2 separate regions of the Homo sapiens genome follow, and region 1 is linked to region 2. Evidence: fine-mapped expression QTL. A gene starts in region 2. The other region holds a variant in brackets. All regions are shown on one strand. Distances are from middle to middle. Region 1 has its middle 7.3 kb from the start of MIR550A2. Region 2 holds the start of LINC00997 (long intergenic non-protein coding RNA 997).

The links.
Region 1: its variant is fine-mapped to the expression of LINC00997 in whole blood (TOPMed, PIP above 0.99).

The regions. Positions count from the first base shown.
Region 1 is chr7:32,724,216-32,727,152 of GRCh38, forward strand. No RefSeq gene overlaps it. Among named protein-coding and RNA genes, the nearest start is that of MIR550A2, 7.3 kb to the right of the region's middle. The variant C/T (reference allele first, on the strand shown) is at 1,876.
Region 2 is chr7:32,756,858-32,759,794 of GRCh38, forward strand. LINC00997 (long intergenic non-protein coding RNA 997) reads left to right here and starts at 1,429. Exons shown (of 1, transcript NR_036501.1): 1 at 1,429-2,937.

The DNA of each region.
Region 1 (2,937 bases), 33 kb before region 2:
ACAATCATCCCACATTTTTCTCAGAACAAGTTTATGGTATTAGCTGATATAAAAATACTTTTCTTATGATTAAGAAAACAGAACATAGAATATTCAACTTGTCAAAGGTTATTTCACTTTAACTGGCTGGAGCCAAAGTCTGAAGGCTGGCCTTCTGATTCCCCCTGCCTCTCTGGTCACTCCTTTCAATCAGTTCCAGTAATTTCTCTTGTTTTATGTACCACTCTTTAATACTGGACCACCTTAGGCTCTGTCATATGCCCCCTTCATTTCTCTATCTGCGCATTCTCCATAAAGAAATTCTTCCACATCCATGGCTCCAATGATCTATATACAGATGACTCCAACTCTACATTTAATCCAGAACTTTCTCCTTATTCTTATACCCAGATAGCCACTTGATGTCCCCACTCTGAGGTCTCTCAAGTACCTCAAATTCATGCATACACAATGAAACATAACAATACAAACCTGCTACTGTTCAAATGTTTCCTACCATTCAAAGCTCAGTTACTTAAGCTAGAAACCAAACTGTTTCACATGATTCTTCACTCACCTTCCCCTCTCTTACCAAACAATTACCAAGACAGGGTCTTGTCCATTCTACTTCCAAAATCTCTCTCAAACCCACATTATCCACATTATCTTTCCTGCATATCCACATTATCTTTCCTGCAATCACTTGCTGAGAATATAATAGTCTTCTACCTGGCCTCCCTGAACCTACTTTTGTCCCTTTACTAATATTCTTTCCATACCATTGATTAAATAATGTTTTAAAATGAAACTCTGTTAAAATTCTTCAATGGATAAAGTATAAAATCCTTCACCAGTGCACGCCTTTCATGATCTGATCCTCGCTTATATTCCCAGCACCATTTCACATCATTTTTCTTCTCCATCATTTCCAGGAATTCTAGCCTTCTTTCAGTTCCCTCTTGCTTCAGGATATTTGAATATGTTATTCCCTATTCTTAAAATACTTATCCTCTTACTCCTCATGTTGGTAATCTTATTTTCTTATTTGTAGTATCCCTCACAGTTGTAACTGCTAACAGACCCCTTACAGCATAAACTCTATGAGGGTAAGGCCCCATGTCTAGCTGGTTCATCTCTGTGTCCCAAGTGCCAAACAGTAACTTATCACTTATTGGGAAGGTAATTAATACCATATTTAGGTGATCATTTTCACCACTCAGACAGGGTCACACCTTCTAGCTGATTGAATCATTGCAAAGTATCTCATTTTATGAGGCATTTTCTCCAATCCTTTACATTGTACACAAAAAAATATAATTGCCCCTCAAACATCCTCATCAATTCTATTTTTACTGAGGCAATCAGTAAAAAATGTAAGGAAAATAGATTTAGTTTATATTCCAAGAGTTGAATGTTGTTACAAACAAGTCTAAAAATTTATTCATAAAATATAATAAGTCATGTTGTTAAGAATTTGAAGAAATGCAGAAAAAACAACAGTGTTAGTGTTATAAAAAGAGATACATGTGGCTCTCAACAAGTCTCAAGGGACAGCACCATATTTGAATTATAAAAGTGCTGAAATGCAAACATCTTAAATGGAAGTGACCACTATGTATCCTGGAAAGCTGTTGGATGACTCCAAAAGTGGTTCTTTGACAAAGAAACCAATGTGGAAGATAAATAGGAAGAGTTTTATTAATACTATGAGCATATATAAAAAAGTAATGTTTCTAAATCAATCTATTATTGCATATCCGATTTTTAAATATGTATGCATAATTAAATTTATACATTAGCTATTACAAATAGATATTTGACTGTTTAATCTATCCTCAAAATTTATATATTGAAGCTACCCCAAAAAACATCTTTCTGTATCTTCGCATTCTGAAA[C/T]AGAAGACTAACTTATAGTCAAGATTGCCTTACAATGGGATATGTTAATACTCAAATTCCAAAATTTATACTCAAATTTGTAAGTACACAGCCTTCTCAGAAAACTACTTTAAAACGTAAAATACTCATTGAGGTGAGCCAGTTCTAATTTTTTTTTAAATCAACAACAGTATTTTACAATAATTCTTAAAAGTGAATCATAATATTATTAAATGTTTATGAATGTTTACAAATGACAGCATTTTTGGAAGAAACATGCCTTCACAGCTTTGAACTTCATTAAGAGGTTCTATTCTGGTGACATTCCAGCAGGTCTTAGTTTCTAGTCCAAATAAATTCATTATTCCCATGGATGTGCGACACCAGGAGGCTATGATTACCTTTAAAAAGATAAAAACAAAGAGATAATGGAGGAAAATATATTCTCTTCATAATAATAATCTTTCCAAAATACCATTTTGTGATGGTTGCCTTAGACATTATAAATTCTGACAAATTTATTTAGATCATTTCACTTAGGAATCAGTCACTTCAAAATTACACATTATGCCTCTATATAGAAAAATATTATATATGTGATAGCCAATTCTGTAATATAAATAATAGTAAGTCAATATAAAAGTATATAATTAAAATACGGTGATTAATAGAAAAATACAAAGATTTATAGAAACATTTCATAATTCACTTCATTTAGATCCTTGAATTTATTCCTTCATAAAATATATAAAATATATTATAAAAACTGGAACAGAATGGAATAATAGCACCTGTACCCATTACAATTTTAATCAAGCAGAAGATTTAATTGACCAATTGTTTCCAAACTGCAAGCTATTTTTAAAAGTTCAAAGACAAAGAAAAAATAACAGAAAAAAATTTCCAACAGAATGTTCATGTCTCAGAGGTTTTTTAAAAATAACACTATACATTCTGGGAAACTAATGTGAAATCACTGGGGGGAGAATGTCAAAAAATAAAGAGTTGAAAAGAGAAAGTAAGCACCTCTTAGAGCTAACCATTTTTAATATTTTGGTGATTGGTGCGGTGGCTCACGCCTGT
Region 2 (2,937 bases):
CAATTTTGGTATTCGCTATCCCATTTACTCCTCACAATAATTATGTGAGATGTGTATGGCAGAAAACTCCATTTTAAAGATTAAGTATCGAAAAACAGAAAAATATTTAAAAATTATATCAAAAGTCATCTCTTAAAAGAGATTATCTTGAAATCAAAAGAGAACCAAATAATAATCATCATCAGTAAAAGACCCAGTAAAACATGGGACCTCCCAACTGTAGCCAAAGAAAAAGCAATTTCTGATAACATCTCATTTCATTCCCCTTTATCACTTCTTCAGTGCTTTCTTTGTCCTCCTTCCTCAGCTACTATAATTCATCTTCATTATCTTAAAAAGAAGTCTGCATTAGGAAAGGGTGAGAGATAATGAAGTAACAGAAAAATAATCTCAAACACTTTACTATTTAAATAATAAACCTGGGTTATAGCTTATGAAACAGTGCAATGAAGTATCATATTACAATAAGAACAAGTTTCAAAACCAACATTAAAATAAGCGATAAGTAAGAAAGCCATAAAAAAGGAAACAATAAATTGTTATAATATTGTTTTTATAATTTGCTTACTAACTCGTATGTTTTTAGGCATTTATAATGCAGTATGGCACACACCTGAAATTCCTTAACTCAGTGGTTTTTAAACTTAATTGTTGCCGGGTGCGTTGGCTCATGCCTGTAATCCCAGCACTTTGGGAGCCCGAGGCGGGCAGATCACTTGAGGTCAGGAGTTTGAGACCAGCCTGGCCAACATGGTGAAACCCTGTCTCTACTAAAAATACAAAAATTAGCCAGCCATGGTAGTGCATGTCTGTAATCCTGGCTGCTAGGGAGGCTGAGGCAGAAGAATTGCTTGAACCCAGCAGGCGGAGGTTGCAGTGAGCAGAGATCATGCCACTGCACTCCAGCCTGGGCGACAGAGTAAGACTCTGTCTCAAAAAAAAAAAACCAACTTAATTGTATATCTAAAATTCTTGTGGCTTGTTTCACCCTTCCTTCCATCCCAGGCCTCTAAATCAGAACAGAGGCAGGTTAGTGTTTGTTTTTTAAGTTTCAAGTGATTCTAATGTACCAGCCTTGGGAAATACCTCCGTAACTGTTGAAAAGGGTTCAGAATATAATTTTAAATAAAATTACTTTAGATCAAAACAGACTTACAATAAGTATAATATCACATAAAGGATCAACTTTCAAGCGCCAAAGAATACAGGTGTGTACTTGAAGACCTTTTAGTAGTGAAACTCAGCAGCTGTAGGCAGTGAAGAAAGGAGCATATGTGATAAACAAAATTAGCTGTGGTCAACAATTATGCTATAGCTAACTTATGTAGTCAGTACTTTCCAGTGAAGTTGAAAATAAAGCAAAGTTCCATGTATTAACCCTGTTTTCCACTAACCCTTCTTTACATGTAGGACATATGCCAGGGTACCAAAAACTGCAGGAATATTCCCTAGCATTGCAGCCTCAGTTCTAATACCAAAATCTCCCTGCAGACTAAATGTCTAGAGCAGCACTGTATCAATAGAACATAGGGGCAGATCTCATACCTTCCAAGGGTAGAAATCGCTGAGCACAGGTAAAAATAAAATATTCCAGAGGGAAATATTATTTTACAAATTTTTATAAACACTTTTGTAAAATAATGTACACAGCCTTGCACACTGAAAGAGTCAAAGCCATTTAACTCTGTATAACCACTGCAGAATCTTTATCTTCTTTTTTACCTGACTTCCAATTGGCGGGTGTTACTAAAACTTTATCACCAAAGTTATTTCACTAGCTGAGCGTGGTGGCTCATGCCTGTAATCCCAACACTTTGGGAGGCCAAGGCAGGTGGATCATTTGAGGCCAGGAGTTTGACACCAACCTGGCCAACACGGTGAAACCTCATCTCCACTAAAAATACAACAAATTGGCTGGGTGTGGTGGCGCATACCTGTAATCCCAGCTACTCAGAAGGCTGAGGCACGAGAATCACTTGAGCCTGGGAGGCATAGGTTGCAATGAGTCAAGATCGCGCCACTGCACTCCAGCCTGGGAGACAGAGCAAGACTGTCTCAAAAAAAAAAAAAAAAGTTATTTCACTAGCAACATATAATTACCATAAAACAAAGGAGGGTTTTAAATGAACTACACATGCAAAATACACTAGAAAAGCTAGATATTTTTAAAAACGTGGTGAATTATTTGGTAAAGCCAAAATATTTTAATTCATAAGTTACTATTCCCCCAATGCATCTATTTTGTAAATGCTGTTTCACATATGAGGTTTGTAAAAAAGCAAAATATATGTATAAAATGGCGTACATAAAGATGTTCTACAAATATAGCCAGAAGTTATTGTTTTACTGTATGCAAAGAGTGATGGCAATTTTTAATTCAAATGTTTTTAAATATTTCGAACTGAAACTAAATCTTACCAATGTAAAATTGCCACAAAGACGGCTGGAAAAGAGAAAAGTTATTAAAAGCTGCTTTATTATAAAATACCATTAAAACAAGTATTTCAAATGTATTATTTTACATGTCTAGAAAAGATAGCACAGAAAGCAAGATGGCCAGCTAATCCTGTCTCTATGAGCATAGGAAAAAATCCAGGACACAAAGTAAATTCTGAACAGAGCTTACCTCTCTGCAGCAGGGCTTGACAAGCAAAGGGAGAGACTTGAGAGGGTTTTTTTACTTCAGTTAATTGGTAGGAGTGATGGAATTATGGAATATTGTGACCTTTTTTGTTTTTTTTTCTTTTTAGTATTCTATTCCTTTATATGAAATTTTTTAAAGAAGTAAATATATACAGTATGCTTCAGCTCGTTCTAACCAAGAGGTGCCACTCTAGATCAGTTTCTCTAGCATTCATCAGAAGACGATTAAATGCAGGCAATCACTTCCTCAGCAGCACATCTAAAAGCCCCATTGTGCAACTCAACCCTTGATGA